Linked DNA regions of Homo sapiens: region 2 is linked to region 1. A link means that fine-mapping ties the variant in region 1 to the expression of a gene that starts in the linked region. Tissue or cell type: whole blood. Region 1 holds a variant in brackets; the other region holds the start of a gene. All regions are shown on one strand. Distances are between the middles of the regions.

Region 1 (5,153 bases):
CACCTTTCTCTTTCTCTCTCTCTCTAAAAATGGATTTTGCATGCTTTTTTCCATCATAACCATGGATGCATATGTATCTCATTCTGCTCCCCAAAGAGTTAACATGAACAAGCATGCAATAGAGAAAGCAAACCAGGAATTCCCATGCCCTAACAACCCCAACACACAAATTCAACCATGTTGACAAAATGGGAAGGGAGATCCTGCCAAATTAATAAGAAAGAGAAAGTGGGAAGAGAGACAGTTTGTTACCGGGTCTCACCTGCCTTCTTTGTTCATGAATAGGTTTTTACTCTTTAGCTTCAACGTGGGCAACAGCAGTTAGGCAAGATTCACACATTATTTGAAATTGGACAAAAAGGATACAAGAGGCCGGCTATGGTGGCTCATACCTGTAATCCTGGCACTTTGGGAGGCTGAGGCCCAGCCTGGCCAACATGGTGAAACCTGGTTTCTACTAAAAATGTAAATATTAGGTAGGCATGCCTGTAATCCTAGCTACTCAGGAGGCTGAAGCAGGAGAATTGCTTGAACCCGGAGGTGGAGGTTGCAGTGAGCCAAGATGGCACCACTGCACTGGGCAAGAGAGCAAGACTCTTTCTCAAAAAAAAAAAAAAAAAACAAAAAAAACAAAAAAAAGATAGTTAAGAGAAATTTCCTAGAATGCTGTGTATACAAGCTTTTAATATAGTTCTATCAAAATTTAGAAGGAAACTGAGATTTAATTTTTTAATTAAATTGGATATGCAGCCCAAGAAAGTATACGCCAACTTTTTACTTGACTACACATTTCACATCTTCAGATAACATTCAGTAACTTTTTAATAACAACTTGAATACATTACATTTAAATATTTTGATTATTTGTAGACAGTCTTCCAGCAACATAATTAATTTCTTCCCTTCATCAAAAATCTGTAATGAATTATTCTTTCAACTAAAGATTTTCCTCAGCATAATAAGACTACATTTAAAATCTAAGAAGCAAATGCTTCCCTACTTCAAGCTTATTTTTAAAAGGAAGCCAAAAAATGATCTTTTCTGAATAAAGTGTTTCAGAAAGGCATAGAATACTTCAATATTATAGTAATAATTATTGTAAAAGGATAGAATTCATCTCATACCATTCTATTACGTTTCCCCCTAGAACAAACAAAATGTATCCTCCTGAGTTTAATTTCAAGTCTTTGAAAAGAATGCAGTCTTCAGAAATTAGATAGGAATTTAAGCTCTAATTCATAAAACATCACTTTCCTCCATGGAACTAGTTGAAGATTACATATTAACAGCACTCCTTTAATTTAATATTCTAAAAAAACAGCATCTAAAAAAAAAGAAATAGTGAGCAGGAGGCCGGTCTGATGACAAATTACATTAAACAATATCATTATCCTTAGCCCTCAGTGTTTTCCATTTTCCAGATGTTTAAAAGACACAAAATGAAAACTCTCAATTGCCCAAGAGGTAGATGATGAACTCATTTTCCAGACAGGAAACTGAGGCAATGAGGCTTTGCCATAAAGTATAAAAATGGTCATCAGCAGAATCAAGATTAGAAGCAGAAACACCTGGTTACACATTGCTGCTCAAAACACATCAATAGAATGTCAGGAATAACGTTGGTTCTTTCTTGCAACCTGTGTTCCATCTTGCTGTATGACATGCAGAGCTGACAAAAGATGGAAACTCTATTTAAAGTTGATGGCACATCTATCCTCCAATGTCAAACCCGTGAGAGCAACATGAGGAATGATTATTTACAATGACATCATCAGACTCAGGAACGTAGTCTACGTTGAAATTACACAGAATGCATTTCGGTAACAAGATCAAGACATGGAAAGCAAAATTAAAGGACAGCTAATGCAAAAATACAACATCAATTCAATAGTTCTACTGATATTCCCTACAAAGGGATGTTTTAAAATACAATTAAAAATATATTATTGAACAACCATATTTGAAATTTAGCACATTTCTATGCCGATGTCAGCCTTCATCTGCACGCCCTTAAATTAGGAGGGAATAGGCATAGAATAATTTTGCTGCATATTATGTTGAAAACATCTGTTTCTAGAGTACAAAAATCTGTTCTTATCCACTACAGATAATTTACCAAGCTTCTCAAATATATTAAACGCTCCAGAAAATTTGATTATTTCACCTAGCAGTGGTATTAGCCAAACAAGTATGGTGATCAGACTGGAGATACACTTGGTGGGAGATGCTTTGCAGGAGGTGCAGGAAGATAAACGGCGGCACTTTTCTTTAGGCACATGAGAATGATGTCCATTGGTGCCAACACCACAGTTATTGTGTGAGGAGCCAGTACATTAGGGACACACTAACATAGAC[G/A]ACACACAGGGTTATCCAGTTTACTCTTGTGATTGGCAGCCTGCAGTTACCTGTCACGTGGAGGATGACATTGGAAGAGAGAGCGCCGCTAGAGTTTTGGGCCCGAGCCACATAGAGGCCTGCGTCTGCCTTGCATACCTTTGGAATGAACACCGAATGCCTTGTCTCCTTGTGTAAAACCTGTAAGTGCCCATCTGCAGACAATTTCTGGCCCTTCTTGTACCTGAAGCAGAGAGGCAGTTTTTAAAGTCAGGATTGCTGTTTATTCACATTATTTCCAAGTTCTAATAATGCTTGCAAATAGGCCCATTACCACTGCAATATTCTCTTAGGATTAGTAGGAACCTTGTAGCCACAACAAATTCCAGTGGGGCTCTTTATCTTTTTTTCTTTAGTAGGCTAGATTGCAGTAGCAGAATCAGAGATCATTGCGGTCTCAAACTCCTGGGATCAAGCAATCCTCCCACCTCAGGCTCTCAAGTAGCTGGGACTACAGGCGCTTACCACCATGTGCAGGCTAAGTTTTTTATTTTTTATTTTTTTTAAGAGATAGGATCTCGCTATGTTACCCAGGCTGGTCTTGAACTCCTGGTTTCAAGCAATCTGCCTGCCTCAGCCTCCTGAGTAGCTGGTATTATGCGCTGTTTATCTTTCAAGCAGAAGTTGGCAACTGGTGGCGAGAGAATTGCTTTGACTGGCTCAGACAATGTTTTTGGAAAACTGAATTTTTTGAAATCCTTTAAAAATTGGAATATTGCATATGAAAATTCAGATATCCAGCTACCCCTAAAAACAAAAACAAAAACAAAGCAGACCATTTGGTCACACTAGGCCACCATTTGCTCATAGTAACAATTACCTAGGGTGTGAAATGGCACCCTCATGTTGTCCAGCTTTATTCTTTTTGCCACTCTGGAACAGCAGCTGTGACTCCTTATAAACTGCATGGGAGTGAGACTCATCTACCCCATCATATTCATACCACAGTATCCACAGGACAATACAGATGTGCTGTTTTAGAGGACTGTACTTAATATCACCTCCTGATGAGATCACTTCATTTAATTTTTTTGAAGCAATTTCATTAGAAGAAAATGACTTCTAATTATAAAAGGTATTTATGCAACTGTATTATGACTATTAATAACATATTTCTAGAAGGTTCCTATGAACATGAGTGCTTAACTGCATGGTTTTATAAAGAAATAATTTTATTTTGTATGTCTGAGATTCTTGTTTATTTATTTCTACCCACAATCTATCACTCAGGGGTGATGACAAATGTGAATCGTTTTCTGTTCCCATTGCCTAAGTGATAACTTTGCCTTTTCTTGGGTATCCTAAGAATGTATGATATCCTGAAAGCTTGTCAGTTATTAATTGAGCACAGTTGTAAATCTGACGACAAAACATTTGTTTACAACATTGCAATATTCTTCAACGACACGTATGTAGCAGTGCTTCTTTAACCACACACATACTAACCAAATTATTAATATTTACTGTGTGGACAAAAACAAGAAACACATCTGACAACATTTTTCTTTGGAGTGAACTGAGATTTAATAATGAATTAAATATCTTTAAAATTCATAAATATGACACTCTTGATTTGTAAAAAACATGCAACAGTAAAGACAATAAAACAAAAAGCAAAAGTGACTGCACTAATATAGCACAAGTGCAGTTTTTTAAATAATTTGAGAAACCAAAGTTTTCTCATAAGTTCCTTAGATAACTGGTTCATATTTCAAGTACCATCAATGGGCACACACAATAACTGAAACTGATCATTTAATATCTACTGAAACATTGTGATCAATAAATGCTATTTTACTTAATCTTAGTTTATAAGTATAAACTGGCTTTTGCAGATTTGTAACTTTGTCCTGAAATAAATTTACTTAAGGATGAGAATTTTCTAAATGTTTAAAAGTAACCCACATATTGAGAAAGAACTGCTTTTGTTACCAATAGTAGGTGATCCAAAACCAGTATTCTACAGTTTGCTTTTACTGAAAAAAAGAGGCTAAAAAATAATGATGTCTCCAGAGTGAAATCATATTGTTTACAGCTCAGTTATTATACTACCTTTCAAAAATGAGTTTATTGCCTGTCACCTGGAGGAACTGTGACAGAAATATTTATATTCCACCTCTCACATTGAAAAAATTTGTAAAAAGAAATCCTAGTAAAACAAAATGTTACAAAGATGACACGTGTGACTCTGTTGGAAAGAGGAAAAAGATGAAAGAGGTAAATGAGAGTAAAGGGAAATAAAAACAAATTCTTATATTTTCAATTGCATAAAGGTAGTTAAAGCAAGCAGATGCCATGCTTATATGGAAATAGACAATAAAAAATAATTTCAACCCACAATCTTTAGAAATGTGGAATGTTAAACACAGAAGAAAACAAGCACAACCAACCTACAGTGCTTTGGAAATTTGTTAAATTATTAGTACTTTATATGGTTACCTTTTATTTTTCTTAAAGGTATTAACTATGCTGCTACTAAAATGAGAGGGGTCTGATGTGAGATTGAATCATGCAGAGTTGCAGTGTCATAGAATATTAATCAGCTAGCCCTAAACCTTTCAGTTAGTGCTCACAGAATGATTTTTCTCTGTGATTGAATTTGTTTCCATTTATGGCTTGTCATTATAGGCTACCCACCATGTCAGTGTAGGCTCTGGAAATCCTGTTACTTCAACTTCCAAAGTCACTGGAGAACCTTCCATGACAGTTACATTAGACAGGAGCCTGGAGAAATTAGGTGCCTGGTCAGCTAGGCTGAC
Region 2 (5,153 bases), 220 kb after region 1:
TTGAGCACAGTCAACTTGCTTTCCACACAAGATTTACACTGCTCTAAGATATAATTTGTCATTGCATTTCCTGAGGAATTGCTTTTCTAAGAAGCAACAACTCATTAAGCAAAATGAACCACTAACACGCATACGCATGTAGATACCTGAATTACTAAAGAGAAATTAGAAAAATGTATTTCTATTTTAGAATATATTCAGTCCCCTGAGACAGTTTGGACAGTCACTATAAATCACACACAGGCACTTCCATTCCATTAAGGTGGACTTTATACTCTGAATTGCTTGGGGTGTATTTTGTATGGAGATGGCAGTAAGGTAAGAGGGCTGAGGAGAGGGTAGTGGGGGAACATTCTTAGAAACACAATTCAGTTAAAATAAGAGTTTCCAGTGTAATTTTCCAGTGTAATTTCCAGTGTAATTTTTTTGTGTTCAATCTACCTCTGATTCTTCTGTAATTTATCCTCTAATATTATTCCTCATCCTGCTCCAAGAATGTTCATATTTGAGGAAATGGAAAGTTAACTTTTTGAAAAATAGTGAGTTTGCCTCTTTTCCCTCATTGCTGAAATCTGCAGTTAACTCAAAGTATCATTAATCCCGTGCAAATGATCTGTTTGCCCTACTTCTGCATCAGGCTTCTTTTCATCTCCTCTCTGGGACTCTGAAAAGATGGGAGGGTGAGGAAGTCAGCAGAGGCCTGGTTCCTGTGGGAGAGAAGTCTCACAACACCAGAAAATCCACCTCGGCAGGAATACTTTCCATTCTGTCCTTCTATAGTGAACTGTTTTGCTCAGTATCAAGTGCTCTTTTCCTGGTATGAATTTTCACATTACCATAAAATTCACAGCAATTAAGTTAAAGTAAACATGGCTTGCTGTCCATGCTCTAACAAAAGGCCAGAAAAGTCATTCAATTAAACCTGGTGGGGACCTGAAAGTAACTGGTTTGTGACCATCAGCTTGTTTGCCAGCTTTCCCTTCATTAAACACTGAATTATTTAGGTGGAATATCATCTAAAGCCCAAGCCTAGTGCTTGAAAGCTTTTTTTTACAGGGCATTTCCATGGAGAATAAAATCATGGAGTTCTTCTTCAGCCTAAAGATGTGTGGTCATCTTTGCAAATGGGCAAATGGGTTGTCATAAAACATGCAGTAATTGTAAACCCTAAGTGGCTTCTACTTCCTGCTGTTAAGAGCAAATTTGACACAAAGCTTTTGTACCTTTCCTTGCATGGTCTTCGTTACTGGACAAGGATTTAGTAGTTTCTTTACCATGTCAAAACCAGTGTGGCAAAGGGCACATGTCGGAGCCCTTTACTTGGTGTTTTCTGAGTTCCATCGTGCTTAAAGCAGTGCCCTCCCCCTGTCTGTCGGGACCTGCCTCCTCCCACCTCCATCACATCCACTCTCAAAAATCACAAGCATTCCACAGGTCCATTGGACTCTTTAGTCAGGCAATCATGAACTTCCAGTTACCAATGCCTTGCTTTTAAAGACCAAATTGACAGTATATGCTAGAGGTTTTCTTTTCTTTATTTTTCTTTCTTTTCTTTTTTTTTTTTTTTTTAAATCAAGCTGCTATAGATGCTTTCTGGCTGACTGAAAGGAAAGAGAATCTCTGGTAACTGCTGAAACTTGTAGAGGTTTCTCTTAGTAGCCCATTTTAGAAAGCAGTAAGAGTGCTTGCTGCGTTGTCTTCTCTATGCTGTGTCCTGCCGATTGCATGGAATGTTCTTTAGGGTTTTCAACACACAGCTAGAAGCCCACAGCCGCACAGAAAAAAGGAAGTTGTTAGCTTACCTTTATGACAGCTATAACGATTTTGGAGTCCCCAGCCTGCACAGCAACTGAACTGACTGTCGTCGTAGAAAGCGCAACACTAGGACTTCCTTGGCTGGACATGGTACTTTAGAACCAGAGTTTATACTTTGGGCAGCCTCTGGACAGTTGTGTGTCTGCTGGTCATTTCAGAAGGCCAGGGTTACTTGGATTCATTCAGGGAAAGAGCTCAGCTCACACTGATTACTCTGCCAAAAGGAAAGAACAGGAGGTTAAAAATAGACAACCCCATTGAGTTTATCGTGAGAGAGAAAGGAGCGAACGAGAGAGAATTGCCACGCCCCTAGTATGGTGACACTAAGTGCCTGTTATTTTTGCTGTTATCTTAAATGTGGAGGACAGCTTCAAGCTCTTTCCTTATCAGCTGATGTTTGATAACAAATGGAAAAAAAAATTACATCCTGACAACCCAAATTAGTTTTGCCACCGAAACTATGCCATTGTAACCATGGACTTTGAAACAAGTAAGTCTTTGACCTGGTTATCAATCTTTTCAAGATTTTTGAAATCTCTCTGATGCAAAGAGAACTACCAAAGTGTACTTTAAAAAAGTTTTGGTATTTGTCTTGGGGTTAAGTCACAAATTGCTTAAAACACATTTTTAGATTAATCTGCTTTTCTAAAACTTACTGTTCTTTGCTAAATGAAGTTTAGATGGAATAGCCACATTTTCTCAGAGCCTCAGATTTCTTAGGAATTTTTAAAAAATATTTCAACCAGCATTTATAAATAGGTGCCTATCATTTCAGATTTTCTTTGTGACTATTCTGCTCCATTGGACAAGGTTTTCAAGTTCAGTTATTAATACCATGAGAAAGCAAAATACTTTGCTGTTACCTTTTAATTGCAGCAAGAAAATGTTTTCTGTGTGGTTAAAAGTTATTAAGACATATATTTTGCTGCAATTAAAAACAAAAACAAAAAGGAAAGTACTGTGCTTCAGGCTTTTTATTCCCTACCCCCACCTCCTGTTCAGGAAAATTATAGCCAGCTTCAAATCAGTGCCCCACATTGGTAGATTAATCCTATTGCTAGAAACTCAGCCTGTGTCACAAGTTGTCTGTGGTATTAAACAGCAGCTGTTGGATTCCCTGTCAAAGAACAGCTGAAAATAACACTAAAGTTTAGGTCAGAAGTCAGATGCAAACATATCAGAGTTACTAACTCCAAAGCTGCTGGAAGCATTGGAAATCTCTGGGACAAAGCCACAACAGAGAATATAGCAAAAAACAGTTTTAATGAATCCACTTGCTCTGTAAACCTTTTAGCCCAATTTAATAGTAGGTTCAGGTTCAGGGCCAATGTTTAGAAGACTGAGTCAGCTCCATTGCTTTGTTTTGCTAAGGTTCATGATCATATTCTTGATTCAAAGGGGAAAAGTACTTTTACACATACTTCAGTGTTCAATTATTTTTGTTTCCAAGAGCATGTCATGGCTGCTCTGCAGCTGTGTAGCCACCACCCATGTCCTCTGCGCTCAGCATCTGCCTGCTGCCCCAGTGAGATGGAAACCATACCTAGATCCTAGTCCCTATGCAACACGAACTTCACCTGACCCCATGAAGGGAACAATTGGAGCGAGCTCAGGAAAGCAGATGCCGAGCAAGCTATGATGTAGCAACTATTGCAAATGGTTTCATTTTATGGCAGGGCTGGAGAGCTTGCAAAGAGGTAACTGACCTGGAAGGTTGCAGGCAGGCTCCTTCTTTCACTTGCATCTGTGTGAAGAGACCACCAAACAGGCTTTGTGTGAGCAATAAAGCTGTTTATTTCACCTGGGTGCAGGTGGGCTGAGTCTGAGAAGAGAGTCAGCGAAAGGAGATAGGGGTGGGGCCGTTTTATGGGATTTGGGTAAGTAAAGGAAAAAGGGGGGTTGTTCTCTGGCAGGCAGGAGTGGGGGGGTCACAAGGTGCTCAGTAGGGGAGCTTTTGAGCCAGGATGAGCCAGGAGAAGGAATTTCACAAGATAATGCCATCAGTTAAGGCAGGAACAGGCTATTTTCATTTCTTTTGTGGTGGAATGTCATCAGTTAAGGCAGGAACTGGCCATCTGGATGTGTACACAGGTCACAGGGGATATGATGGCTTAGCTTGGGCTCAGAGGCCTGACATTCCTTTCTTATATTAATAAGAAAAATAAAACGAAATAGTGGTAAAGTGTTGGGACGGTGAAAATTTTGGGGGATGGTATGGAGAGATGATGGGGGATGTTTCTCAGGGCTGCTTCGAGCGGGATTAGGGGCGTCATGAGAACTTAGAGTGGGAGGGATTAAGCTGAAGGAAGACTTTGTGGTAAGGGGTGACATTATGGGACTGTTAGAAGAAACATTTGTCATTTAGAATTATTGGTGATGGCCTGGATACAGTTTTATATGAATTGAGAAACTAAATGGAATAAGAGAGGGAGAAAAACAGGTATTAAAGGTCTAAGAATTGGGAGGACCTAGGACATCTGATTAGAGAGTGCCTAAGGAGATTCAGCATAGTCCTGCCGGCAAAGATTATTTATTTACTTCAAGAGTTAAGAGTGGCAGTTTGGGGATAGCACCAGGAGATATCAGCTGTGATGGCTTGGAGAAACAATGTAAACCAGCAGTGTAAACAAGAGCAGAGCATGTATAAGTAGTTGAGAATGGTGAATAGGAGTATGACTAGACAGAAGATAGTAGGGATGACAAGATTTTGGGGGCAAAATCTAAGTTGGTCTGGTGTCTGGAATGAGACTGGGGCTAAATAAAAAGGAGCGTCCACACAGGAGCTCAAATGGGCTGTACCTTGTAGCATTCCGAGGACAGGCCTGAATTCTGAGAAAAGAAAGAGGTAAAAGTATTGTCCAGTCCTTTTTAAGTTGGTGGCTGAGCTTAGTGAAGTGTGTTTTTAAAAGACCATTAGTCCGTTCTACTTTTCCTGAAGACTGAGGACTGTAAGGGATATAAAAGTTTCACTGAATACCAAGAGCCTGAAAAACTGCTTGGCTGATTTGACTAATAAAGGCCAGTCTACTATCGGACTGCGTAGAGGTGGGAAGGCCAAACCGAGTAATTGTGTCTGACAGAAGGGAAGAAATGACCGTGGTGGCCTTCTTAGACCCTGTGGGAAAGGTATCTTCCTATCAAGTGAAAGTGTCTACATAGACCAAGAGGTATTTTAGTTTCCTGACTTGGGGCATGTTAAGTAAAGCTAATTTGCTAGTCCTGGGTGGGGGCAAATCTCTGAGCTTGATGTTTAGGGAAGGGAAGGGGCCTGAATAATCCGAGAAGTAGTAGAATAGCAGATGGAACACTGAGATGTTATTTCCTTGAGGATAGATTTC

Evidence for each region. PIP is the estimated chance that this variant, and not a neighbour inherited with it, causes the effect.
Region 2: CCDC141 starts here. The variant in region 1 is fine-mapped to the expression of CCDC141 in whole blood (TOPMed, PIP above 0.99). The same link has a PIP of 0.9 or more in blood mononuclear cells.

What each region holds. Positions count from the first base shown.
Region 1 is chr2:178,831,863-178,837,015 of GRCh38, forward strand. It overlaps CCDC141 (coiled-coil domain containing 141), which reads right to left. Exons shown (of 24, transcript NM_173648.4): 23 at 5,032-5,153; 24 at 1-2,578. The coding sequence ends at 2,311. Among named protein-coding and RNA genes, the nearest start is that of TTN, 27 kb to the left of the region's middle. The variant G/A (reference allele first, on the strand shown) is at 2,356.
Region 2 is chr2:179,048,038-179,053,190 of GRCh38, forward strand. CCDC141 (coiled-coil domain containing 141) reads right to left here and starts at 2,100. Exons shown (of 24, transcript NM_173648.4): 1 at 1,803-2,100. The coding sequence starts at 1,904. RefSeq lists enhancers at 1,597-1,646, 1,837-2,086, 2,097-2,176.